2 separate regions of the Homo sapiens genome follow, and region 2 is linked to region 1. The links come from fine-mapping of genetic effects on gene expression. A gene starts in region 1. The other region holds a variant in brackets. All regions are shown on one strand. Distances are between the middles of the regions.

Region 1 (16,276 bases):
CCCCCAAAGTGCTGACATTACAGGTGTGGAGGTGGAGGTTGCAGTGAGCCGAGTTCGCGCCACTGCACTCCAGCCTGGGTGACAGAGCAAGACTCTGTCTTAAAAACGCACAAACGAATGAACAAAAACACATAAGAAATCACGTGTGTCTGTGCCCTTTCCACATTCCACAGGCACACAGGGAACTCTGGCCTGGCCCTGGCCTCTTTGGGAAAGGCGAACATAATCTCAGCTCAATCTACAAGGGATCAGATGAGACCGCACAAACAGCTGCCTTCAGAGAATGGGATGTTTCTGGGTCATGGGAAGAGACGCTGGAGGTCCACTTCAGCTAGACCCTTCAGGAGGGTCTCTCAGAGCAGAGGCCTGCAAGTCGAGAAGGAGCCAGCCACGAAAGCATCTTGGAGGAGCGCAATCCAGGCAGAGGGAACAGCGAAGAGGCCCGTGTGGCTGGAGCGAGAGCCGAGCCGAGCATAAGCATGTGGAGCCGCCAGGAGGAGGGTATTTTTTTTTTATTTGAGATGGAGTCTCACTCTGTCTCCCAGGCTGGAGTGCAATGGTGCGATCTCGGCTCACTGCAACCTCCACCTCCCGGGTTCAAGCGATTCTCCTGCCTCAGCCTCCCGAGTAGCTGGGATTACAGGCACCCACCATCATGCCTAGCTAATTTTCATTTTTTTTTTTTTTTAAGAGACGGGGTTTCACCATGTTGGCCAGGCTGGTCTTGAACTCCTGACCTCAGGTGACCCACCTGCCTCTGCCTCCCAAAGTGCTGGGATTACAGGCATGAGCCACTGCGCCAAGCCTTTAGATTTTTTTTTTTTTTAAGTGCGATGGGAGTGTGGGATCTGCCCTGCTTTGCAAAGCCCGCAGGGCTGCTGTGAGGAGCAGTGTTGGACCACACTGGGTGACAGCAAGTTCCTTTGATGAAGGAAGAAAGTGAAAACCTCAGGGTTGGTTTCTGCCCGGGTCACTGGACACTGAAGCCTCGCCCTTCTCAGGGCTGGGGGTCAGTGGAGCAAGAAGCGGGGCTTGGGCTGCTGTCTGGCCATTGCACAATGAGCGGGCTGGCTGCTTCCTCTGACTCATCACCAGGGTTTAGGATGGATCAAGTTTCATGCCAGGCGGGCCGCGGGGTGAATGGGGGTGAGTAGGAAGAGCAGCAGACTTACTTCTGCACATGCCCAGGATGGCTCCTTGCTGTAACCCCTGCTAGTCCCCAAAATCTTTTCTCTTCCATCTTCCTGTGTCTGGAAACTGGCTTAGTGCAGATATATGTAAGTGATCAGGGTAAGTGGCATTTATGGAGCACCTCTTAGTGAGACACATATTAACATATGTTAACATACTAACATATTAACGTATGTTGACACATACGAATTTCATTTAAAGCCTACAGGGCCAGGTGCAGTGGCTCACGCCTATAATCCTAGCACTTTGCGAAGCCGAGCCAGGAGGATCACTTGAGGTCAGGAGTTCGAAAGCAACCTGGCCAACATGGCAAAACCCCGTCTCTACTAAAAATACAAAAATTAGCCGGGTGTGGTGGCCTACACCTGTAGTCACAGCTACTCAGGAGGCTGAGGCAGGAAAATCGCTTGAGCCTAGGAGGTGAAGGCTGCAGTGAGCCGAGATCTCACCACTGCACGCCAGCCTAGGAGACAGAGCGAAACTCCATCTCAAAAAAAAGAAAAAATTAGCTAGGCGTCGTGGTACACCCCTGTAATCTCAGCTACTCGGGAGGCTGAAGTAGGAGGAGAATTGCTTGAACCAGGGAGGCGGAGGTTGGAAGTTGCAGTGAACAGAGATCGCAACACTGTACTCCAGCTTGGGTAACAGAGCGAAACTGTGTCTCAAAAAAGAAAAAAAAAAAAAGATACATGTAATTGATTAGGGTAAGTGGCATCAATTACGGAGCACTTCTTAGAAGTAAGGCAGTTGACACTTATTAACTTCATTTATTTTATTTATTTATTTATGTATTTTTTTGAGATGGAGTTTCACTTTTGTTGCCCAGGCTGGAGTGCAATGGCGCAATCTTGGCTCACTGCAACCTCCACCTCCTAGGTTCAAGCGATTCTCTTGCCTCAGCCTCCCGAGTAGCTGAGATTACAGGCATGTGCCACCACGCCCGGCTAATATTGTATTTTTAGTAGAGACGGGGTTTCTCCATGTTGGTCAGGCTGGTCTCAAACTCCTGACCTCAGGTGAGCCGCCCGCCTCAGCCTCCCAAAGTGCTGGGATTACAGGCGTGAGCCACCACGCCTGGCTAACTTCATTTAAAGCCTACAAAACTCAGTGTGTGAAAGCAGCTGAGGTCGGCTGTGAGGCCTGAGTTTTGGTGCATAAGTTGCTAGGGCAGCTGCTGTCCCTGCTCTCTGTCTTTATTTCTTCTCTGACCTCACAGGATGCTGTCAAGAACTAGAAGCCGGTCAGGCGTGGTGGCTCACGCCTATAACCCCAGCACTTTGGGATGCCAAGGTGGGAGTATCATCTGAGGTCAGGAGTTCGAGACCAGCCTGGCCAACATGGTGAAACCCCATCTCTACTAAAAATACAAAAATTAGCTGGGCGTAGTGGCGCACGCTTGTAGTCCCAGGTACTCTGGAGGCTGATGCAGGAGAATCACTTGAACCTGGGAGGCGGAGGTTGCAGTGAGCCAAGATCGTACCACTGCACTCTAGCCTGGGAGACCTAGCGAGACTCTGTTTAAAAAAAAAAAAAAAAAAAAAAAGAACTAGAAGCCACATATGTAGCGGGCCCAGTCTCGCATTGGACTCACAGAAGCTGCAGTCTCAGTCAGAACCAGGAACAGAAAAAGGACTTGAAATAGATTTAGGCAGGCCAGGCACGGTGGTGCACACATGTAATCTCAGCACTTTGGGAGGCTGAGGGGGGCGGATCACTTGAGCCCAGGAGTTTGAGACCAGCCTGAGCAACAGGATGAATCCTGTCTCTACAAAAACCACAAAACATTAGCCAGGCATGATGATGCACACCTGTAGTCCCAGCTACCTGGAAGGCTGAGGTGGGGGGATCACCTGAGCCTAAGGGTTGGGGCTTCAGTGAGCATGATCATGCCACTGCACTCCAGCCTGGGCAACAAAGTGAGACCCTGTCTGAAAAAACAAACAAACAAACAAACAAGAAAACAAATAGACAAGCACAAAAGGGAATAAATTTTTGGCCTACATAACTTAAAAGGCAGGTGAGTCTAGCTTCAGGAATGGCTGGATCCAGAAGCTCAGGCTGGAGTACAGTAATGTGATCTCGGCTCACTGCAACCTCTGCCTCCTGGATTCAAGCTGTTCTCCTGCCTCAGCCTCCCAAGTAGCTGGGATTAGAGGCATGTGCCACCATGCCCAGCTAATTTTGTATTTTTAGTAGAGATGGAGTTTCCCTATGTTGGTCAGGCTGGTCTCAAGCTCCTGACCTCAAGTGATCCACCCACCTTGGCCTCCCAAAGTGCTGGGATTACAGTTGTGAGCCACCGTGCCAGGCCTGGTTCTGTTTTCCTCTGTGTGGGTCCACTCTTTTGGCCCAGCTGAACTAATCTTTTGTTTTTTTTTGAGACAAAGTCTCCCTCTGTTGCCCAGGCTAGAGTGAAGTGGCGCTATCTTGGCTCACTGCAACCTCCACCTCCTGGGTTCAAGTGATTTTCCTGCCTCAGCCTCCCCAGCAGCTGGAATTACAGGCGTGTGCCACCGCGTCTGGCTAATTTTTTTTGTATTTTTAGTCGAGATGGGGTTTCACCATGTTGGCCAGTCTGGTCTCAAACTCCTGACCTCAGGTGTTCTGCCCGCCTCTGCCTCCAAAAGTGTAGGGATTACAGTCATGACCCAGCGCCCAGCCTGTTTTTTGTTTGTTTGTTTGTTTGTTTGTTTGAGACAGGGTCTTGCTCTGTCACCCAGGCTGGAGTGCAGTGCATTATCATAGCTCACTGCAGCCTCCATCTCCCAGGCTCAAGCAATCCTCCTGTCTCAGCCTCCTGAGTAGCTGGGATTATAAGCAGGCATCACCACGCGCAGGTAATTTTTTTATTTTTAGTGGAGATTAAATCTCGCTATGTTGCCCAGGCTGGTCTCAAGCTCCTGGGCTCAAATGATCCTCCTGCCTCGGCCTCCCAAGTTCTGGGATTACAGGCATGAGCCACAACACCCAGCCTGGCCTGAACCAATCTTGATGGCCAGCACAATGGGCTATGCTGATTGGCCAAGACTTCCACCTTAGGGAGGGGTGTTTGTGTGGTGGGAGAGTGGTGAGACCAGCCATTCACATCTCACAGACTGAAAGTCAGAACCAGTGTTCCCCAAATAAGGGTTGTTGACACTAAAAAGTTGAGGGAGTGGGTGGGGTTGAGAGAAGGAATATGCTTGTTAGGCAAAAAGTATAGGAGCTTACCAAAGTGCGCAAAATCATATCAAGAAGGAAGATGGCCGGGTGCGGTGGCTCATGTCTGTAATCCCAGCACTTTGGGAGGCTGAGGCGGGCGGATCACCTGAGGTCAGAAGTTCAAGACCAGCCTGGCCAACACGGTGAAACCCTGTCTCTACTAAAAATACAAAAAGTAGCCGGGTGTGGTGGTGGGTTCCTGTAATTCCAGCTACTTGGGAGGCTGAGGCAGGAGAATCACTTAAACCCCAGAGGCAGAGGTTGCAGTGAGCTGAGTCTGTGCCACTGCACTCCAGCCTGGGAAACAGAGACTCCGTCTCAAAAAAAAAAAAAAAAAAAAAATCCCATAAAAATTAGCTGAGCATCATGGTGCATGCCTGTAATCCCAGCTACTTGGGAGGCTGAGGTAGGAGAATCGCTTGAACCTGAGAGGCAGAGATTGCAGTGAGCCAAGGTTGCGCCACTGCACTCTAGCCTGGGCGACAGAGTGAGACTCTGTCTCAAAACAAAGATAAAGTAGGGCAGTGGCAATATCCAAGGCATTCTAAATGAAAATCGATATATATATATATATATTTAACATGAGCATTTTATTACCTGTTGTAAAGCATGAATCAAAGCATGTTTGGAAGATGTCAGCATCCCCTCCAGCCATCCTCAGTCCAATAAAATGTGTGCTTGTTGTGCCATTAGAGCCATCATCAATTCCCCCAGCTGACCTTCCTAGCTTCCACCCAGCCCATACTCTGAAATCCCTGCAGCCTCCTGAATATAAACTTTCAATATTGGTGGTTGGGGGTCCCTCTCTTGAGGGAGGGAGGGTTAGAGTCCCTCCTGCTTCCCTGGCTTACCACTCTGCCATCGGGGGAGTCTCTGCTCCTTCCTTCACTGCTGAGTCTTGATGGGATTTCTGGACCCTTCTGTTAGCACCTTGTTGCAAAATAGAGATCCTTGAACAAGACTGGACTGGAGAAGTATGCAGAGGGAAGGCTGAAGCTCTGTAACTCCAGTTCTTTGGGCTCAGGTATCCAGAGAATAGCAATATGCCCATTGCAAGGGAATGGGAAAAAGTAGTCGTCGGCTGGACATGGTGGCTCACGCCTGTAATCCCAGCACTTAGGGAGGGCGAGGCGGGTGGATCACCTGCTGTCAGGAGTTCAAGACCAGCCTGGCCAACATGGTCTTTAGTCTCTACTGAAAATAAAAAAATTAGCTGGGCGTGGTGGCGCCTGCCTGTAATCCTAGCTACTGGAGAGGCTGAGGCAGGAGAATGGCTTGAACCTGGGAGGAGGAGGTTGCAGTGAGCCGAGATCGCACCACTGCATTCCAGTCTGGGCGACAAGGGCAAAACTCGGTCTCAAGGGAAAAAAAAAAAAAAAAAAGAAAGTCGTTAAGGGCAACAGCTAGGTTTATGGACTGAGAGAGCCGATTGCAGGGTTCAGGTCTTAGCTAAGATAACTTTCCGCCTCCCTGTCTGTGGTGGCTGCAGGAGCCTCCCTCCCTAATGTTCTGTGGCTGGCCACTGGTCTTATTTACCGCATCACATTTACCTCCATCTGAAAAGTTCTTGGTTATTTGTGTGCTATGTCTGCCCCCTCTCTGACTGTACACTCCATAAGGGCAGGGATCACCTCTGCTTGTTCACGCCTGTACTCCAGTTTGCCTGGCACATAGTAGGTGCTCAGTAAATATTCCTTGAATGAATGAATGCATGAGTGACCAACGCCCTAGTCTGTTTTCAGAGCTCTTAGTCCAAACCCAGGTTCAACTTGGGGTGCCACCAATCCTTGCGGGGGGGGGTGCCTGGCCCCACCCTTGTGAATTGGGAGGATCTGGGTCAGGCCGTCTCCCTCTTGGGGGCTCCAGTGCCCCAGCCGATCCGCGGTCCTTGTCCAACAGCCCAGAGGCCGCTGTCCAGCGGGCCAGGAGGCGGATCACTGCGTCGGCGTTGAAATTTCCACTCGCGCTCCACCGCCCTTCCCGCGGGCCCCGAGCGCGCGCCTGGGCGCGCGCATGCGCCTTCGCCCCCGCGCCGCGCGCCGCTCCTGTGCGCCTGCGCCGCGCTCACGACCGCCGGCGCGCCTGCGCACTGCTCGCCGCCCGTGGGCCCAGCCGGCGCTTGCGCGGTGGCACGGGCGAGTGGGGGGGCGAGGAGGTGGAGGAGGAGGAGGAGGAGGAGGAGGTGGCGGCGAGAAGATGGCGACTTCGAACAATCCGCGGAAATTCAGCGAGAAGATCGCGCTGCACAATCAGAAGCAGGCGGAGGAGACGGCGGCCTTCGAGGAGGTCATGAAGGACCTGAGCCTGACGCGGGCCGCGCGGGTAAGGGGGCTGCCCGCGCCGACCCTTCAGGGCCGGCGGAGGGAGGGAGGGGGCGCGTGTCCGGCGCGTGCACGGGGCGGGGTGGGGGGGGGCGCGGCGGGGGCGGGGCGCGCGCGGCGGGGGCGGGGCTTGGCACGGCCCGAGGGGGACAGGTGTCCCCACGCCCCGGGCGTCGTGGGCGGGACAGGTGACCCCACAAAATCCATACCTGATGGGGTACAGGTGCCCTGCATCACTGCTCCCCGGAGGAGACAGGGGCCTCTATATCATTACTACTAGGAGGGAACAGGTGCTAGTACCTCGTCGTTACCTGACAGGGGACAGGTGTCCCTACATCATTGTTACCCGAGGGGGACAGGTGCCCCACATTATTACTACCTGGAAGGGACAGGTGCCCCCGCATCATTGCTACCTGGGGGGGCAGGATGACACAGGTGTATGAGCTGGGTGCTGCTTGCAAGCACCATTGGTAGCTGGGGGTGAGGGTGCAAGTGCCCCCGCATCCTTGCTACCTGGGAGGGACAGATGCCCTCCCATTCTTGCTACCTGAGGGGGACCGGTGTCTCTACGTCATGGTTACCTGTGCCTTTACTCCCTGGGTGTTGGGGGAGGAACGGATGTCCCCACTTGCAGAGCTGAGGTGGGACAGGGATCTCTCCCTCTTGGACAGCTGAGGGAATGGTCAGATCCTGTCCCCCAGGGGGTCCAGAGGGGGGCCAAGAAGGCAGATTGTGCTCAGTCCTGGAACTTGGAGTGGAGACAGCTGCCCCTTCTCCATGTAGCCCATATGGTGGGGGCCAGGTGATGTTCCTCCCAGTGGAACAGGGGATGCTGACCACAGCCCCTGCCCTCTCAGGACCAGGGTGGAGGGCCAGGTCTGCCTCAGGTGGCTGGGCGCATTTGGTGTGCAGGGGCAGGCCAGGTTCTGCCAGGCTCCTGTCTGGCAGAGCAGATACCCTGCAAATCTCACCTGGGAAGTTGCTGTGGGCCAGGAGCAGGGGCTTGGGGCTGGTGTCTGAGCACGGCAAGGCACCCGAGTTCCTCAGGCCTCAGTTTCTTGTCAGGCATTCTAGCAAGACCTTCCTCTTGGGGCAGGGTGGTGAGCACACTCTGCAAAGGTGATGCTGAATCTCCACTTTGTTCTTGCAGTGTGGTGAGACCTCTCTCCTGCATCCTGGGGCCTTGGGGAGGGTTTGGGTGGGCTTTGCAGATGCTCGTATCCCTGGTTTCCAGATTCAGCCACTGATGTGACTGGCTCAGGTAGACTTAACCTCAGTCTCTGATTCCTTAGGTAGCACTTTCAGTCTGTGTTACTTTGTAACTAGTTGTTTGTTTCTCTGAGAGATTGTGACCTTATAGACTAGGATTTGTGTCTTCATTTCTGTGTTGGTAATGATTGGGAGCTCACTGTCACCCAGGTACTGCTTTAGGCATGCTCGGTGAGTGTGCCACATCTGTCCTCCCAGCTCCAAGCAGCTACATTCTTGCTCAGGATGTAGAGAAAGAGATGGCTGGTGAATGAATGAATGAAAAAAAAATAAGAAAATGGCCAGGTGTGGTGGCTCATGCCTGTAATCCCAGCACTTTGGAAGGCTGAGGCAGTGGATCACCTGAGGTTAGGAGTTCGAGACCAGCCTGGCCAACGTGGTGAAACCCTGTCTGTACTAAAAATATAAAAATTAGCCGGACGTGGTGGTAGCTACCTGTAATCCCAGCTACTGGGGAGGTTGAGGTGGGAGAATCACTTGAACCTGGGAGGTGGAGGTTGCAGTGAGCCGAGATCATGTTACTGTACTCCAGCCTGGGTGACAAGAGTGAAACTCCATTTCAAAAAAAGAAAATAAGAAGAAAGTGTGCAACTTGAGCATCCTTCCACGTGAGTGTCCCCCACATATCAGGGCTTCTGAGGCAGGAGTGGCCACTTCTTTTTGTCTCCAGCACATGGTGTGTGCTGGCATGCAGTTGTTGTCAAATGTTTGCAGTGTGACCGGAAGAAAGGGGTCACAGTAGGTTCATGGGTGTCATTCTGATTAGAAGTCCAGTTTCTGCGTGGGATTGGAAATAGATTATTGTTGTTGAAAACATCTCTTTAAAATAATAGCTTTATTGAGATATGATTCACACATCATACAATTTACTTGTTTAAAGTGTACAGTTTGGTGGTTTTTAGTATATTCACAGAGTTGTGCAACCACCCCTATTTTGTAATTCCAGAACATTTTTTATCCACCCAGAAAGAAACCCCGTCCCCATTAACAGTCACTCCCCATTCCCCCTCCCCTAGCCCCTGGCAAGCACTAAGCTGTCTTCTGTCTCTGTGGGTTTTCCTATTCTGGGCATTTTATATAAATGGAATCACACAACACGTGGCCTTTTGTGACTGGCATCTTTCACTCAGCGTCATGTTTTCAAGGTTCATCTCTGTAGTATCATGGATCAGTGCTTCGTTCCTTTTTAGGGTCAAGTAATATTCCGTTGTATGGATATATTGTATTTGTTTATCCATTCATCAGTCAATGAATTTAGAAAAATTCTGAGGCCAAGTGCAGTGGCTCACACTTGTAATCCCAGCACTTTGGGAGGCCAAGGTGAGTGGATGACCTGAGGTCAGGAGTTCGAGACCAGCCTGGCCAACATGGTGAAACCCGTCTCCACTAAAAATACAAAAATTAGTCGGGTGTGGTGGCACATGCCTGTAATCCCAGCTACTCGGGAGGCTTAGACAGAAGAATCGCTTGAACCTGGGAAGTGGAGGTTGCAGTGAGCTGAGATTGTGTCACTGTACTCCAGCCTTGGCAACAGAGTGAGACTCCATCTCAAAACAAAAACAAAAACAAGATTCTGAAGATATGCAGGTGGCAGTTCTTTCAGCCCTGGAAACCATTTCCCATCTTCCTCATCACCTGGGGTCAGGGGAGCATGGGCTCTGGGCAGAGGTGAGTTCACACTAGATTTTTAGACACAAAGCATTGTTCTCTTTCTGGGGCAGGGGGTGATTCTGCCCCCCAGGGGACACTTGGTGATGTCTGGAGACATTTTGGGTCATCATGATTAGGGAGTGCTTCTAGCATCTGGTGGGTGGAGGCTGGGATGCTGCCCAACCCCCTACATGTAGTGCACAGGATGGCCCCATCGTGTGGAATAATCTGGCCCCAGATGTCGGCAGTGCCAAGACTGAGAAACTTTTTTTTTTTTTTTTTTTTTTGAGATAGACTCTTGCTCTGTTGCCCAGGCTGGAGTGCAGTGGCGCAATCTCGGCTCACTGCAACCTCTGCCTCCCGAGTTCAAGTGATTCTCCTTCCTCAGCCTCCCGAGTAGCTGGGATTACAGGCATCTGCTACCATGCCTGGCTAATTTTTGTATTTGTAGCAGAGATGGGGTTTGTAGTAGAGACCATGTTGGCCAGACTGGTCTCGAACTCCTGACCTCAGGTGATCCGGCCACCTCGGCCTCCCAAATTGCTGGGATTACAGGCATGAGCCACTGTGCCCAGCCAAGGCTGAGAAACTTTTGATTAGAGGTGTAACAGTGAGGTGGGCCAGGGTGTGAGCTTTGCACCTGGTCAGGTAGAGTTCCATCCTTTGCTCCCACCTATATGGCTGTGCCATCTCTGGCAGGCTGCGACCAGGGTGGGCAAGCTTATTCCCAGTTTGACTGGCCACTGCACAGTCCAAGTGGCATGTCCGCCGTGCCTGGAGCAGGTGAATGAACCTATATGATGTGGGCTTCCCTCCTGCAGCCATGGCGCGCTGCCTCCCATACTGTAGACAGCAGGGGTTTGGCCACACCTGCAGCCAGGTGAGGCATGATCGGGTCGGCACCTGCTCCTCTCCTTTGAATTCCAAAGGACAGCATGTCACTCATGCGTGTCTGTTCACAGTTGCCGGTGGTGATGGCACCTGAGGTGTCTTGCTGCCGTGGAAGGCCAGTCAGCAGATGTTTGGCTAGAAGACAGGGACCTCACCAGGGCACAAGCACTGAAGGGTTGGGGGACAGGGCGTAAAGTCGGGAGACTGTTTGCAGGTCTTGGGGCGGAGGGGTGGGTGTGTGGGCGTTCCCTCCCACTCTTAGGCTTGGGTCAGCGTGACAGGCAGGCTGTCTATGGCGCTCTGCTGTGTGACACTGGGTGGGTTTCTCAACCCCTCTGGGCCGTAGAATCCTGAGTTGTAAAGTTGGGGCAGCGCGTTCATTCCATCAAATGACAATTTTCATTGTCTGGCATGTCTCAAGAGCCTGGGGTGCTGGGGCTCCTGCAGTGTACAGGGCATACGGGGCTGTGTTCTTGGGGAGCCAGCATAGTTTTAGGGGGGACAGGAGAGCATCAATGCATCCGAATGAAGCAGACGCCCTCAGAAGGTGGCACACGCTGGGAGAGAAGTGGCTCAGCCACGTGCTAGGAGTGGCTGGGACAGGGGTGACACAGCATCCCCAGAGAGCAGGGAAGAGCACTTCAGATTGGGGACAGGCACAGTCAGAGCCTTGTGGTGGGAATGACTTGGCGAGTTTGAGAATGGGTGGAAAGCAGGGAGGAGGGCAGGTGAGGCTGCAAGAGCTTGGATCTCCCCTGAGGGAGGGGTCTGGGAAGCCTCCCTGCTTGTTTTGTTTGTTTGTTTGTTTGTTTGTTTTTTTGAGGAGGAGCCCCCCCTGTCGCCCAGGCTGGAGTGTGGTGGTGCGATCTTGACTCACTGCAACCTCCGCCTCCTGGGTTCAAGCGATTCTTCTGCCTCAGCCTCCCAAGTAGCTGGAATTGCAGGCATGCACCACCACGCCTGAGTAATTTTGTATTTTTAGTAGAGACGGGGTTTCACCATGTTGGTCAGGCTGGTCTTGAACTCCCGACCTCAGGTGATCCGCCCACCTCGGCCTCTCGGAATGCTGGGATTACAGGTGTGAGCCACGGCGCCTGGCCCCGCTTGTTTTTGTAACAGCTTTATTGAGATGTCATTTCCATGGCATTCCGCCACTCAGTGGCTTTTAGTATATTCACATTTGCACAGCCAACACCAGTCAACTTGAGAACATTTCGTACCCCCAGAAAGAGACCCTGTCCCCATCAACAGTTACTTCCCACTCCCCCTTGCCCAGCCCCTGGCAGCCACAAATCTGCTTTGGTTGCTTGCTTTCTTTTTTTTTGGAGACAGAGTCTCAGCTCTGTCACCCAGTCTGGAGTGCAGTGGCACAATCTCAGCTCACTACAACCTCTGCCTCCCGGATTCCAGTGATTCTCCTGCCTCAGCCTCCTGAGTGGCTGGGATTACAGGCAGGTGCCACCACACCCGGCTAATTTTTGTATTTTTGAGTAGAGACAGGGTTTTGCCATGTTGGGCAGGCTGGTCTCGAACTCCTGACCTCAAGTGATTCACCCGCCTTGGCCTCCCAAAGTGCTGCGATTGCAGGTGTGAGCCACCACACCTGGTCAACTAATGTGGTTTCTGTCTCTATGGATTTGCCTGTTCTGGACATTTCATATCAATAGAATCCTACACAGTGAGGCGAATCCTGCACCATGAAGCCTTTTGTGTCTGCCTTCTTTTACTTAGCATAGTGACTTCAAGCCTCTAACTTGGATCAGTGCTTCATTTCTTTCTTTCTTTTCTTTTTCTTTCTTTTTTTTTTTTTTGAGACAGAGTCTTGCTCTGTCTCTCAGGCTGGAGTGCAGTGAGCCAAGATTACGCCACTGCACTCCAGCCTGGGCGACAGAGTGAGACTCCATCTCAAAAAAAAAAATTGATGGCCATATATATATATATATATATATGTAATATAACACTTACCATTTTGACGTTTTTTAAGTATAAAATTCAGTGGCATTAAGTTTATTCCCAGTGTGGTGCACCGTCACCGGCATGGCTCAGTAATAGTTCATGTCATATTCCATGGTGTGGGTCTACCCCGTTTTGTCCATTCATCTGGCCATGAACACGGGTTGTTTCCACCTTTGGCTGTCGTGAATCATGCTGCTGTTGGCATCTTTGTCCACGTTTTTGGGTGGATGTATATCTTCATTTCTCAGAGCATGTGCTGGGGAGTAGAGTTGCCGGGTCCTCTGGTAACTCTCCATTTATCCATTTGAGGACGTCGTGTGTCTCAGGAGGATAGCTGTGGCTGTGAGTGGGATGGGTGTGGTGTGAGCATCCGCTGCAGGTGTCCAGATCAGGGGGAATGATAGCTGGAGCAAGGGGGTGACAGAGCGGGTGGATTTGGTGGCATTTCTGCAGCAGAGCCACCCAGACGTGCTGGAGGATTGGATGTTGGGGGTGAGGGGAAGGGAAGGGGGGAGTGTCGTCTGCTTGCCAGGGGTTCAGGACATTGGGGATTCCTCGTATGACTGATCATTGATGACCTCAGACAGCAACACCTGGGCCAGAAAAAGTACCCAGGCAAGACAGTCATGGTGGCACGGTCAGGGCTGAAGGAGGGCACTCTCCTGCTGTTACCTACTGTGAAGCTGGAGTAAAACGGGCCCCTGGGCTGCAGGCACAGCGCAGTGGTGGCTCAGGTTAGCTGAGTGTGGAGCCCGCCCCCCAGTCCTGGCTTTGGCGCTATTTGTTTCTGTGCCGGCTGCTTCAGCTGTCTGCTGCCATCCGCAGCCTCCATATACAGGCAGGACTCCCTGAGCTGCTCCCTGAACAAAAGGTGGGGCAAGCTGCCCTCATCCTCATCACTCTCCAGGCCCCTCCAAAAAGCTAAGCTGTCTCAGTACTCCCCAGGTTGTGAGCTGCATGCCCTGCAGCAGGCTGAGTGGTGGCCCCTAAAAAGCATCTGCTCACCTTCTAGCCCTGTAACCCGTGAATTGGACCTTAGTTGGAAAAAAGGTTTCTGTAGATGTGATTAAGGTAAGGATCTGGAGATGAGATCATCCTGGGGGGGTGGCCCTAAATCCGGTGACTGGTATCCTTATGAAGAGTGGGCCATGGCTGGGCGCAGTGGCTCACTCCTATAATCCCAGCACTTTGGGAGGCCGGGGTGGGCAGATCACGAGGTCAGGAGATCGAGACCATCCTGGCTAACATGGTGAAGCCCCGTCTCTACTAAAAATACAAAAAAATTAGCTGGGCGTGGTGGTGAGCGCCTGTAGTCCCAGCTACTCGGGAGGCTGAGGCAGGAGAATGGCGTGAACCTGGGAGGCAGAGCTTGCAGTGAGCCGAGATCACGCCACTACGCTCGAGCATGGATGACAGAGCGAGACTCCGTCTCAAAAAAAAAAAAAAAAAAAAAGAAGAGTGGGCTGGGAGTGGCGATGCATGCCTTTAATCCCAGAGTTTTCAGAGGCCGAGGCAGGAGGATTGTTTGAGCCCAGGAGTTTGAGGTTACAGTGAATTATAATCACTCCAGCCTGGGTGACAGAGTGAGATCCTGTCTCAAAAAAAAAAAAAAGAAAAAGAAAAAGGAAAAGATGGAGGGGGACCAGGCACAGTGGCTCACGCCTGTAATCCCAACATTTTGAGAGGCTGAGATGGGACGATAACTTGAAGCCAGGAGTTTGAGACCAGCCTGGGCCACAAAGAGGGAACTCATCTCTACGAAAAAAAATTGTTTTTTAATTAGCCGGGTGTGGTGGCGTGCACCTGTAGTCCCAGCCACTTGGGAGGGTGAAGTGGGAGGATCACTTGAGCCCAAGAGTTAAGGCTGTGGTGAGCCATGATTGTACCATTGCACTCCAGCTGGGGTAAAAGAGTGAGACCCTTTTCTCCAAAAAAAAAAAAAAAAAAAAAAGACAAGAAAGGACACAGAGACACAGGGGAGAGGACCATGTGACAATGGAGGCAGAGATTGGAGCGATGTGGTCACAAGTCAAGGAATGCCCAGAGCCCCCAGAAGCTGGAAGGGATAGGAAGGGTCTTCCCCTAGAGCCTCTGGAGGAAGCATGGGCCTGCCGGTGCCTCTTTTTTTTGTTTTTTTTGAGATGGAGTCTCACTCTGTCGCCCATGTTGGAGTGCAGTGGCGTGATCTCGGCTCACTGCAACCTCCTTCTCCCGTGTTCAAGCGATCCTCCTGCCTCAGCCTCCCGAGTAACTGGGATTACAGGCTCCTGCCACCACGCCTGGGTAATTTTTGTATTTTCAGTAGAGATGGGGTTCATCCTATTGGCCAGGCCGATCTCGAACTCCTGGCCTCAAATGATCCACCTGCCTCGGCCTCCCAATGTGCTGGGATTACAGGTGTGAGCCACCGCGCTCGGTCTTCCCCACCCCCACTCTTAGGACACAATCCATACCCGAACACTGAGCTCCTACACTCCAACCCCGACCCTGTGGTCCTGATCCTCCACCCCAGGCCCTGCTCTTGCTGTCTCCCTCTGTCTCATCCAGTGTAGAGCAAGGGCCCCTGCTACTAAAAAGGGCTGAATGAAGGGTCCACTCCGGGCCTCGGTGGTAACCCCACACAAAACCTGCGGAGCCAGCTGGAGCTGGCTGGACTTATGCATCTGCAAGCGGCTGCAGCCCTGTCCTGATGTGAAGTCCACAAGGTTACCTGGTGCTACAGGTTCTGTCAGGCCCGGGGTTCCTTGCCACTGGCTAAAGTCACAAATTACCACAAAGTGAGGGGCATGAAAAACAGAAATTAATTCCCTCACCGTCATCAATATGATGAAACCCCGTCTCTACTAAAAATACAAAAATTAGCTGGGCATGGTGGCATGCACCTGTAATCCCAGCTACTCAGGAGGCTGAGACAGGAGAATTGCTTGAACTTGGGAGGTGGAGGTTGCTGTGAGCAGAGATCATGCCATTGCACTCCAGCCTGGGCAACAAGAGTGAAACTCTGTCTCAAAAAAAAAAAAAAAAGAAGTGGTTAGGGTGTGCAGCGACCAGGTCCACGTGCTCTGGGGAATCTGGGAGGGCTTCCTGGACCCTCAGCGTGTGTGAAACCAGGGGCTGCAGGGCTGGGTGAGGAGCAGATGTCCCTGGCTCAGGAACAGGCATGGCACTTGTGGCTCTGCAGTTAGAAATTCATTTTTCTGGGCCGGGCACGGTGGCTCACGCCTGTAATCCCAGCACTTTGGGAGGCCGAGGCAGGCGGATCACAAGGTCAGGAGATAGAGACTATCCTGGCTAACATGGTGAAACCCTGTCTCTACTAAAAATACAAAAAATTAGCTGGGCATGGTGGCACGTGCCTGTAGTCCCAGCTACTCGGGAGGCTGAGACAGGAGAATCGCTTGAACCTGGGAGGTGGAGGTTGCAGTGAGCCAAGATAGTGCCACTGTACTCCAGCCTGGGCGACAGAGCGAGACTCCGTCTCAAAAAAAAAAAAAAAAAAAAGAAATTCATTTTTCGGCCGGGTATGGTAGCTCACACCTGTAATCCTAGTATTTTGGGAGGCCGAGGTGGGCAGATCACGAGGTCAAGAGATCGAGACCACCCTGGGCAACATAGTGAAACTCTGTCTTTACTAAAAATACAAAAATTAGCCAGGTGTGGTGGTGTGCACCTGTAGTCCCAGCTACTTGGGAGGGTGAGGCAAGAGAATTGCTTGAACCAGGGTGCTGGAGGTTGCAGTGAGCCGAGATTGTGCCACTGCACTCCAGCCTGGGTGACAGAGTGAGACACCGTCTAAA
Region 2 (12,263 bases), 61 kb after region 1:
TGATGTGCCCAAACTCCCACCCTAAAACCACAGTGTGAGCAGACTCTGCCATAGCCCAAGGCCTCAGGCACACAATGACACTCTTATCAGGCAGGATATTCTCCTGCAGGTCACCTCCCAGGAGCTGGGGACAAAGGTCAGACCTCTCTTGGGGCCAGCTTAACCCTTTTGCTGTACAACTCCTCATGCAAAACCAAGAATGAGCATGGGGTTCCCCAAAAGAAGAGCAGAGGCCAGGCGCGGTGACTCATTCCTGTAATCCCAACACTTTGGGAGGCCGAGGCGGGTGGATCACTTGAGGTCAGGAGTTTGAGACCAGCCTGAGCAACATGGTGAAAAACTCTGTCTCTACTAGAAATACAAAAAAAAAAATTAGCCAGGCATGGTGCCTGTAGTCTCAGCTAGTTCGGAGGCTGAGGCAGGAGAATCACTTGAGCCTGGGAGATGGAGGTTGTAGTGAGCCAAGATGGCGCCACTGCACTCCAGCCTGGGCAACAGAGCGAGACTCCATCTCAAAAAAACAAACAAACAACAACAACAACAAAAAAGAAAAGCAGAGTCCCCACTCAGTGTCCACTCCTGGCCCAGGGGCTGTGCTCCGAAGCCTGAGTGCCTCCAGCAAAGTGGACAGGAGCTGGGAATTGTGGGCAAGGTTTGGACAGAGATGGGGCTTGGGAACCATGAGAGTTCTGTGTGTCCCCAGTCCTGTAGATTGTCCCCGCATCCCAGGTTTCCTGTGGCCCGGGGACATAGTGTAAACAAAGCTGCTTCAGGGAGTTCTTGCCCCTGATGTCTGGCCTCCTGGGAGCTGGCAGCTCAGCCCGTGTAGAAAGCACATGTGGCATGAGTACCTGCTGTGTCACACGTCGTGTGTCCCTCTCACACCCGCCTGTAGCACTCACTCTAGGTCGGGGACACAGGTCCAGGAGGGGTCACAGCCTTTAGGGCCATATAGTCAGTGAGAGGTGAATGTAGCACAGGTTTCTGTCATGCTACTTGGACACAGAAGAGGGTGGAGAAAGTCACGGGAGGCCACAGGCGACCTATGCCCAGGTAGGTGTGGGGTGGGAGCTGTAGGACCCCCACCCTACACCCCCTCCCTCTGCCACAGCCCGGAGCTGGCCTGTTTCATCTGGTGTGACTGCTGGGAGGGACACTGTGGATGTTCATTGTGTATGTGTCTGGCCAGCGGCCACCAAGGGCTCCCAGCACAGACCCTGGGCCTCACCCCCAGGCCCTCGAGAGCCACCCAATAACACACAAGGTTAATCTTACCATCGGCTCCACTTCAGCTCACAGGAAACAGCTGTTTACCTGGGCGAGGTGCTCAGCCGGGCAGGTGGCCAGTTCCCGGGCTTTACTTCCGCCTCCGGTGTCCAGGGCCCCCTAGGAAGCTGGGGCGGTGGGGCAGCCAGCTCTCCACGCACTGCCAGGAGCTGTTTGTAAGGAACGAGTCGGCCTTGTTGTGTACACAGTGTCCACCCTAGCAACCGCCCCTGCCGGGCCAGAGTGGACAACCACCCCTCCTTCCTGCCTGCCCAGCCCCACCTCTCCTCACGGTGGCTGCCTCCCCCAGTTGCATGGCAGGCATCATGGACCAGCATCCCCAAGGGCCTCGGGTCGTGCCACATGGGTCAGGGGCCTCTGTTACTGGCAAATCAGCATCAGCCACATGAAGGGGAGGAGGCCAGCTTCCAGCCCTGTTCAGAGTCAGCGTGACCCATCAGGGAGCTCCTGGCCCCTGGTTCTGTGCCCCGATGCCATCAGGGAGTGGGAAGCAGGGATGCAGCTGAGATGAAGGCGCTCAGCTGGGCCCAGCCCCCAAGAGGCTGGGAAGGACCATGAGGAAGGAACATGGGGCTCAGGACCCTCTAGAACTCAAGCTGGGTCTGGGGGACTGACTTGGCTGCCCTGGCTCTGTGTGGGCTGCCGTCGGGATCACAAGTCCCACGCTTTGAAGGCCATCACCACGCTTCTGAGACAGCTTCCTCCGATTCAGGCCAGTGGGAAGCCGCCTGGCCTGCCAAGTCACAGCCTCTGGCCGTGATAAGAAATGGCTCCCCTGGGCTGGTGAGGGGCCTCCTTGGCAGGCTGCAGGCCCGCCAGTGCCTCTCTTGCCCATTCACTGACTGACCGAATCAGCAGCAAGGCAGCCAGCTCCCCAGGTTCACGGTCATGGGTTTCTGCATGGTGCATTGCCCCGCCTGGGGAGCCGTCCCGGCACCTCGGGTTTCTGATTCTGCCATTTTTGGTGGAGGGACACCTGGTTTCCTTAAGCATCTGGGTCATGAGGTCCTGCAAACTTCTGCACTTAGGCTGTCAATCCCACCACTTGGGTCTTTTTGTGCCTTTGGGGCTGGCACTCTGAGGTGAGCCTGGGAGGTGACCCCTCCCGCAGCTGCTGGCTTCTCTCTCGCAGCTCCAGCTCCAGAAATCCCAGTACCTGCAACTGGGCCCCAGCCGAGGCCAGTACTATGGCGGGTCCCTGCCCAACGTGAACCAGATCGGGAGTGGCACCATGGACCTGCCCTTCCAGGTGAGTGCCCCGCCCCCTGGCCCTGCCCCATTGTGGGGAGCTTCCCCCAGCCTCCCACTGGGGGCCAGACATTGAGGACAGCTGGGGTTATCAGACAGTTGGCGGAGCCCACCCAACCACTGCCTTCTCCTTGTCTGCCCTGGGAACCAGAGGAAGCAGAGTGGCCCCACCAGGGTGCCCCCGCAGCCCATTCCCCATCAGCAGACCCCGAGGCGAGCCCTCCATCTGGCCTCCAGCATTTCGGCAGCCGCTACACCTGTTGGCCGGCTGTGCGGCAGCGGGAACCGCTCGGGGCCACTGGGGCTTGGCTCTGTCCTGCCTCACTAATCCGCAAGCCCAGCAATTCTCAGAAGGAGGCCCGGCGGCCTGACCCCACTTGTCTGCAAACGTTTCTTGGCAGAGGCCCACACAGCGCGGCTCCCGCAGGCCGCACAGCCGCCGTGCACAGCCTTATCGTAAACAGGAGATAAGGCCCACAGCGGCCCTCTTCCCTGTCCCTGGTCTGCGGGTGGAGATGGGGATGGGGTGGGGCCGAGGGAGCTGGCCTATGAATCAGGGCCACCCCCAGGACGGTGTCTGGGCTCTGCATGGACAGGTCCCCCTGGGGGGGGGTCACACCTACTCTGTGGCTGAGAAAACCACCTCGGACACAGCCATGGCCACTGACAGGCCAGATGGAGCCGGGGCCCCTCCCAAGTCACCCACCAGCTCCACCGCCACCTGCACCGCCGCTGGACAGGGCAGGGATCCTTGGGCTGGCCACCACGGTGCGCCTCCTCCGGCATACAGAGTGCGGGCCATCACTGATGCTGGGCGTGTTCTTTGTCACAGCCCTTCCTGGCCAGGTTTTCTCCCCTCCTGCCCTTCTCTCCCTTTCCTGTTTCTCCTGTCCCCTCTTCCCTGGAGGAGAGTCTCTCTCTGGGCACCTTGCAAGCTCAGCCTGAGTGGGGCTGAGGGGCACAGGACCCTGTTGGGTGTCTGTCGCCCGAGGCCCACAGCCCGGGGGGAGGTCCCACGCATCCCGCCTTTGGGGCCAGGCAAGGCAGCAGCGTCTCAAAGTCTCGGTTCTTTGCATTTTCAGCCCAGCGGATTTCTGGGGGAGGCCCTGGCAGCGGCTCCTGTCTCTCTGGTAAATGAGCCCCCAGGCTGAGGCCGCGGCGTCCCCGGCGCCAGCCTGCAAGACCCCGACCCGTGTGCGGGCGCTGGGGATCCCTGAGCTCCCCAAGCGGCCGCCCCTGCGGCTCCCAGGGAGGTGGAGGTGTCCCGTCCGCCAAATGGAAATGGATCCACTCCGCACCCCCATCTCGGGAAGTGCGTATGGTCGCGTCGAGAGGCCCTGGGGACTCTTGGGGTCCATCTGGGGCAGATGCCATAGCCGCGCATCCCCATCTGGGGTCCAGCAGAGCAGAATCCCAGCATGTGCCCCAAAGCTGCATGGTCCGTCCCTATATACACACACACACAAACACACACACACACACACACATACACACACGTGTGCACGCATCTCCCAAACCAGGCCAGCAGGCAGGACGTGGCGAGCCCGGGTGTGGCCAGCCCCCGCTTCATTCTGCCTCTGACTTGGCTTTGGCTGCCTCAGTTTCCCTCTGGGCTTCAAGGCATCTCTGGAAGGAGATGAATTGCCCCTACCCTGAGGAGCCTGTGCACTGGACAGCACAGTTCCCACCCTCATCGTCACAGGCCCACGTCTCCCATGCCCACAGCCTTTTGGGGGCAAGAGCCACGGAAAGACCCAAACCAGCAGAGTTCATGCTGGATCGAAGAAAGACTTGGGGGTCCCCAGGGCTGGGGACAGTAGTCAGCCCTGAACTCTGGCCGAGGCTGGGACAAAGCAGCAATCCTAGCCATGGACAGGCTTCTGGAGAGGAGACTCACTTTAGTATCAGAGTCTCATTTTGCCCGGCTGCCCAGAGAAGGCATAAGGGCTCAGGGGCCAGATGGCCGGACTGGGGGATTGGCTGCATCCAAAGCTGGCAGAGCCTGCTGATCTCACCCCAGTCAGATGGCAAGTGGGCAACACAGGGTCAGGGCGGGCTCCTGGCAGCCCCGGGGGCATGAGGCCGGGCATGTAGCAGGGCCTGGGGAGGGCCAGCCTGGTGCCAGCCCCAGGTGCTGGGAGGAAGCCCCATCCAGCCAAGCAGTGGGCCATGGCTCCGGAAGGCGCCTGTACTTGGCTCTGGTGGTGCCTGGAGTGCCTGGAGGAGGCTGCGGGGGAGGGTGTGTGGGGGCCGCGTCTCAATCAAGAGCAGCCCTGGGCTCCACAAGGAAGCCTCCCAGGAACTCGCGCTTGGCCAGGTGGGCCCCGAAACAGTCCTGGGCTGGAAGCCCCTGGGCTGTCTCTTGGCAGGCCCCTCCAGGGATGACGTAGGTGGGGGTAGGAGGCCGTCCAGGCCCGGAGAGAGAGGGCGGAGGCCTGTCTGCACCTGGTGAGACTGGGGAGGAGGGCTGCCTAGGCCGGCTACATCCCTGGCACCCGGCGGGCGCTGGCCCCGAGCTTGTGCCGCTCTGCCTGGCCTGTGCATGCCAGCTGCACTGCACGCCCCTGCCACCCTGGCTCCCGGGACCCCAGCTCACACCCCCTCCCTACCCCCCAGTGCTTGGAGAGCCAGGGAGCTGGGGCTGAAGGAAGAAGCCCATCCCAGGCTGTGGAGCGATGGCCGAGGGTGCTCCAGAGTGGGGGGCCCTGCGATCAGACTCTGGGGCCAGCGCTGGGGCCACAGCTGGTAACCATTGTTTGGATTTCTCTCTCTCTGTTTCCATCTCCTCCTCCCCCAGACCCCCTTCCAATCCTCGGGCCTGGACACCAGCCGGACCACCCGGCACCATGGGCTGGTGGACAGGGTGTACCGGGAGCGTGGCCGGCTCGGCTCCCCACACCGCCGGCCCCTGTCAGTGGACAAACACGGACGGCAGATATCCTTTTCACCAGAGGATGAGGGTGGGGGCCAGGCCCTGTCGGTGCCGGCAGGACCCCAAGTTTACCCAGCAGGTTCTGACAGGGCTGCCTGCTTCCAGCTCTGGGGACAGAATCAGGGCAGCACCATCTGGGAGGCTTGATCTCAGGGCAGCCTGGGGGACTTCCTGGAGGAGGCTGTGCCACAAGCCCTGGAGCCTTTGGCCAGACTTGGGGGCTCAAGGGGCACAGGGAACAGCTCTCAAGGCAGGAGTTGAGGAAGGTTATACCTGACCACAGAGGGCTTAGACACCTGGCAGGGCAGTGGGGCCAGGAAGGCCGTGAGCAGGGAGCCCACAGTCAGGGCTGTGAGCTGATGAGGCCTCTCCTACGCGCTGCACGGAGGGCAGCCCAGCCAAGGCAATGGGGCTAAGGGGGTCTGTGTGAGACCCGGACGCATCCAAGGGAGGCTCCATCTCTGTAAGACAGGAGTAAAATTCGCCTCTGCGACTCGGTCACGCAGAGATCAGCCAGAGTCCCCCCCTCCCCCCCAACTCAGCCGCCCCTTGGTGCTCAGCCAGCCGGGCCCCACAACACCAGAGTCTGAGCGGCCTCAGGTTGCTCCCGGGATCCCCCGGCTCTCCAGAACAGAGAAGCTTGTTCTCCGGTTCTCATTTCCGTGGGCTGGGGGAGCTTGACCAGCTGGGCCCCAGACTGAGCCCTTGGGCCCCAGGAGCCACCCCGTCAGCCCAGGATGGAGAGTCCAGACCAGGGTCAGCTGAACTCAGACTCCACAGCGTCCCCACAGGCCCTACTTTCACAGCCCAGAACCCCCTCCCTTGGAAGGGGTGCAGCCCGCACGTGTGCTCACGGAGCAGAGTGCTGAGTGCTAGGTGGACAGGGCTGTACCCCTGGAGAGCCCCTGGAACGGGGGCTGCTTGTAGCCAGGCAGGAAAGGCCGGCAGGAAACGCCCCCCGCCCTACTGGTCCCAGCTGTTTGCAGGCCTCAGGCCGACCCCAGCCAGCCAGCCGGGGCTTCCTGCCCTGGGCTGAGAGTGTGTTGTTGGAGGCGGGGTCTCAGCCAGTGGCACTGCCCCCTTAACTCACCTCACGCCGACAGCTGCCCCTATGGCACCATGTACCTCTCACCACCCGCGGACACCAGCTGGAGAAGGTCAGTGGCTGGACACCCCCCCCCCGCCCCCTTCTTGTTGGAAACAAAACCAAACTCTCATCATGGTTACATGTGGAAAAGCAGGACACAGTCGCTTAAACAATGACCAAACTAAGATGCATCCAGAAGTTTCTAGAAATTAGCCTTCACCCTGAAACACAGGAGTTCCAGCTTTGGGAGGTCTTCTAACATTTCCCTTCCCCCCACTTATGACAAAAAAAAAGACAAAAACAAAAGTGGGACCAGGAGTGGTGGCTCAGGCCTGTAATCTCAGCACTTTGGGGGGCCGAGGCAGGCGGATCACTTGAGGTCAGGAGTTTGAGACCAGCCTGGCCAACATGGTGAAACCCCGTCTCTACTAAAAATACAAAAATTTGCCAGCATGGTGGCGCATGCCTGTAATCCCCAGCTACTCAGGAGGCTGAGGCGGGATAATTGAACCCGGGAGGCGGAGGTTGCGGTGAGCCAAGATCGAGCCACTGCACTCCAGCCTGGGTGACAGAGTGAGACTCCATCGCAAGAAAAAGAAAGTGGGACGATACCGCATATTCAGCACTGTAGCTTGCTCTTTCCTATTTAATGCTGTATTCAGAGCAGGTACCCATGTTACTCAACAGCCATTAAAAATGTGATGATAAAATTATATTAACACATTTAGGATGGAAGATTAGGAAAAATACAGGCCAGGCACAGTGGCTCACGCCTGTAATCCCAGCACTTTTGGAGACCAACGCAGGCGATCAGTTGAACCCAGGAGTTGAAGACCAGCCTGAACAACATAGAAAGATCCCATCTTTACAAAAAATGAGAGAATTAGCCAGATGTAGTA[G/A]TGCACGCCTGTACTCCCAGCTACTCGGGAGGCTGAGGTGGGAGAATTGCTTGAGCCCAGGAGGTCAAGGCTGCAGTGAGCTGTAATCATGCCACTACAGTCCAGCCTGGGCCACAGAGCGAGACCCTGTCTCCAAGGCCTAAAATAACAATAATATAGTTAATATAAAAACATACAATAATATAGATCATGGTTGTACAACAATGTGAATGTACTTAATGTCACAGAACTATACACTCAAAAACAGTTAAAACTATACATATATACACACATATTTACATACATATGTATACAAACGTGTGTGTGTATATAATTTTTTTTCTGAGACATGGTCACACTCTGTTACTGAGGCTGGAGTGCAATGGCGCGATCACAGGTCACTGCAGCCTCGACTTCCCAGACTGAATCGTCCCACCTCTGCTTCCAGCTGATTTTTTTTTTTTTTTTTTTTTTTTTGGAGAGACAAGATCTTGCCACGTTACCCAGGCTGGTCTCAAACTCCTGGGCCCAAGTGATCCACCCATCTCGGCCTCCCAAAGTGCTGGGATTACAGGACATGAGCCACTGTGCCTGGCTGTTATATATATTTTACTACAATAGAAATATATATAACAGGCACAGTGGCTCACACCTGTAATCCCAGCACTTTGGGAGGCCGAGGCGGGTGGATCACTAGAGCTTGGGAGGTTGAGGATGCAGTGAGCTATGATCATGCCACTGTACACCAGCCTGGGGGGCAGAGTGAGACCCTGTCTCAAAAAAAAAAAAAGAAAAACCATATACATACATACACACGCACACACACCACACACATACACACACATGTTAGTAAACGGAAGAAAAGTAAGCAAGCTGTTCAAAATATATATGTATACTACAATATTAAATTCTCACCAAGCCCGTATCATAGGTCAGGCCCTGTTCCCACCATCACATTCATTAACTTATATAAAATGAATGGAGCTTTATGGAGTGGGCAGTGTGTTCATCTCCATTGTAGTCCGTGTTAGACATGAGGAAATTGAGCACAGAGAGGTCAAAACACTTGCTCAGAGACACATAGCTGGTGGTGGCTGTACCCACATTTTGCCTGGCAGCCAAGGAGGCTTTCTGGGGACCCACTCTTGAGGCACCTGCAGCCAGGAGCAGATTGGGTGGCCTTGTGCTTTCTCCCCATCAGTTCCTAGAGGGAAATGCGGTCCCTGGAGGTAGAGGGAAGAGCCTCTCCTGGGCTAGTTGAAGCAAGACCTCCTGCCTCAGGTTGGCTTCCCAACCACGGGGGCCTCTAAGTGGCTTCATTCCTTCCGGGGCCTTCTCCTAGCCCATTCCACCTGTCACACTGGGTTTGTGTGACACTGAGCATCCTAGAGGGCACAGTCACCTGATTGTGTTTGTCACCAAGAGGGGACCTGGTGACAGACTGGAGGCTCATACCCCAAGGCTGGGCACCTGTGGGGCTCCTTCTTTGGGAGGTTTCAGCAGGAGGGCACTGTCCTTTCCCCAAAGCCAAGAAGCCTTGCTCTGTTGCCCAGGTTGGTCTTGAATTCCTGGGCTCAAGTGATCCTCTCACCTCAGCCTCCTGTGTCGCTGGGACCACAGGCGTGCGCCACCTCGCGCGGCTGCTTTTTGTTTTTCACGAGCTTTGCAGATGAACACCGCAGTCACTCTGGTGGCTCTTTTTAGAATGAGGTCCCGAGAGCTTTGCTCAGGTGCAGCAGCTCACAAAAATGATCCACAGCTGCCACCCTGTCCATCCAGCGTGTCCCAGCTGGGATCAGGACTATCGCATTGTCTGCCTTGGGCTGAGGCTCATTGTCTCTTCCTCCCTCCCCACCAGGACCAATTCTGACTCCGCCCTGCACCAGAGCACAATGACGCCCACGCAGCCAGAATCCTTTAGCAGTGGGTCCCAGGACGTGCACCAGAAAAGAGGTATGGACAGGGGACTCGGGTGTCTCTGCTGGGGTGAGGCAAGTCCAGCAGGTAACCCCTGTTCTCCAGGAGGTCACAAGCTTGTGGGCAGATGGCTCTTCAAAGGAAGACTCAGACCATGCTGAGGGATCGGGGGAGGGGATCGGAAACTTTCAGAGGTGGTGCTACTTAAGTTGGATTTTGAAGAGTGCATAGGAGTTTTCTAGGCAGAGAAAACAACCCTGCAGGCGCACGTTGGCTCCCATTCCTGGATTGAGGGCGTGGCCATGAAGTCTGGGTGCTGCACAGATGCTGGTTTCAAATGTAGCGGCAGCAAGCCCACGCAAAGGAGCATTTGTCAGCTCATGACAGAGCAGGCCAGGGGTCGACTTCTAGCCACAGGTTCAGCTCCTTCCACTGCTTCCCACTGGACTGTTTCCTGGCTCTGCTGCTGAGAACTCTCCTCGCCTGCAGCCCCTGGGCCCGTCCTAGCTATAGCGAGTGAGAAAGAGGCCATCTCTTCCCAACTCTTGGCCAGAGTGTCGCCTCCAGCTGAGCCATGCACACCCCTGTGGCGGGGACAGATCTGTACCCAGGTCCTTGGCTCCAATTTGAAGCCGGGCGTGGAGGCGGCACCCTGGGAACCTTCAAGGAGGGCATATGCTGTCTTAAAAACTGGGGCGGTGCCATCAGAGAAGGGAGCTTGGAGGCTTGAGGCCAGCCCCAGGGAACCTGGTGTGGCCCAAGGCACTGAAGCCAGGGAGTTGCACGTGCTTAGGGCTCACATACCTATGCTTGTATTGCTGCCGTTCACCGAGTGGGTGGTTAACACGCAAGGGAGATTCTGCTGATAGGAGGAGGAAGAGGAGGAGGAGGAGGACTGTTGGCCAGAACCTCACTCCGGGGTTCCGGCTCAGCGTGCAGCAGAGACGGGAGGGAGAAGAGAATGTCTCCATAATGAAAATGAGGCTTCTGGAACACCCAGGGGTGCTGAGGATAGCACAGTGCCTGGGGCTTCCCTGCTATTCCTAATGAGCAGGCTGTTCTGAGGCTGCTGCCTGTCCTACTAGGTCCCCACAGACAGCACGTCCGAGGGGTGGGCAACAGGATGTCACCATCCCCTGGAACACTGTAACCTGGGAAAGGAGCTGTGACATGGGACCCCTGGTGGCCTTGGAGTGGGGGCCTGGCAGGGACACATCATCTATCCCCACTCTCCTCGGAGCGCCTGAGGTGGTGACAGGGCTGGGGTTGGCCTGGCTGCCTCCTCGCAGCCTGGCTTTCAACAAGGAAGGGGTTGGCCTATCTGGCTGTGCTCATCGTGGGTCTCCCAGTTACAAGTAAAAAAAATGAAATGTGCAACAGGCATAAAGAAAATGGGGAAATGGGCTGGGTGTGGTGGCTCACGCCTGCAATCCCAGCACTTTGGGAGGCCGAGGTGGGTGGATCACAAGGCCAGGAGTTTGAGACCAGCCTGGGCAACATAGTGAGACTCTGTCTCTACCAAAAATACAAAAAAATTAACTGGGAGTGTTTGCACGTGCCTGTGGTACCAGCCACTCGGGAGGCTGAGGCAGGAGGGGGAATTGTTTGAGCCTGGGAGGTGGAAGTTGCAGTGAGCCAAGATCACGCCACTGCACTCCAGCCTGGGTGACAAAGTGAAACCCTATCTCAAAAGAAAAAAGAAAATGGGGAAATGTTTACTCTTACCTTGACTGAAAGATCCAAGGAAAGGCACTTTCAGGCCCGGCTGGTTCCAGAGCCTCAATTGATGCCCATCCATCCCGTCGCTCAGACTCTCCCTCTCCTCTTCTTGCTCTGGGGCTGGCTGACATTGTGGCTGACTCACGGGGCCGCTGCTGCCATGAGTGCACTGGTCCCACCTCCATCAGCATTGAGTGACATGATCTGAACCCCTGTGCTTGGTGCCGGGGGCTCAATAAAGGTTCAGCCACTGGGTGTCAGCAGCCCAGAGCAGGAAGCAAGATCAAGTGGTGGATGCGGAACAGAACATGCAAGCTAGGGCCAGGCGCGGTGGGTCATGCCTGGAATCCCAACACTTCGGGAGAGAGGCTGAGGTGGGCAGATTGCTTGAGATCAAGAGTTTGAGACCAGCCTGGCCAACATGGAGAAACCCCATCTCTACTAAAAATATAAAAATTAGCTGGGCTTGGTGGCACATGCCTATAATCTGAGGCTGAGGCAGGAGAATCTCTTGAACCCAGTAGGCGCAGGTTGCAGTGAGCCAAGGTGCCACTGCACTCCAGCCTGGGTGGGAGAGCAAGACTGTCTCAAAAAAAAAAAAAAAAAGAAAGAAAGAAAAATATACACACAAGCTAGGCAGCTGCTCTTGGGAGAGATTCTTGGCTGTTCTCTGTAGCCTGACGCCTCTGAGGCCCACGTTGGTTCAGCCTCTTCTGTGGGAAGCAGAATCCACACATCCTCAGGCTCCAGAGCTGCTGTTTTATATTATTTTATTTTAGAGACAGGGTCTTGCTCTGTCACACAGGCTGGAGCGCCATGGCATGATCACAACTCGCTGCAGCCTCTACCTCTCAGGCTCAAGCGAGCCCTCCACCTCAGCCTCTCGCATAGCTGGGACTACAGGTGAGCACCACCACACCCGGCCAACTTTCTTATTTTTTGTAGAGGTGAGGTTTTGCCATGTTGCCCAGGGCAGTCTCAAACTCCTGAGCTCAAGTAATCTGCCTGCCTCGGCCTCCCAAAGTGCTGTAATTACAGGTGTGAGCCACTGTGTCCAGCCTTGTTTCTCTTTGTCTCTCTTTCTTTCTTTTTTTTTTTTTGAAACAGAGTTTCACTCTGTCGCCCAGACTGGAGTGCAATGGCGTGATGTCAGCTCACTGCAACCTCTGCCTCCCCGGTTCAAGCAATTCTGCCT

What was found. PIP is the estimated chance that this variant, and not a neighbour inherited with it, causes the effect.
Region 2: its variant is fine-mapped to the expression of CRTC1 in whole blood (INTERVAL, PIP 0.94).

Annotation. Positions count from the first base shown.
Region 1 is chr19:18,677,115-18,693,390 of GRCh38, forward strand. CRTC1 (CREB regulated transcription coactivator 1) reads left to right here and starts at 6,566. Exons shown (of 14, transcript NM_015321.3): 1 at 6,566-6,714. The coding sequence starts at 6,589. RefSeq lists an enhancer at 5,956-6,255 and a silencer at 6,466-6,555.
Region 2 is chr19:18,740,491-18,752,753 of GRCh38, forward strand. It overlaps CRTC1 (CREB regulated transcription coactivator 1), which reads left to right. Exons shown (of 14, transcript NM_015321.3): 2 at 2,420-2,536; 3 at 5,333-5,470; 4 at 6,563-6,624; 5 at 9,291-9,385. Among named protein-coding and RNA genes, the nearest start is that of COMP, 45 kb to the right of the region's middle. RefSeq lists an enhancer at 8,633-9,616. The variant G/A (reference allele first, on the strand shown) is at 7,454.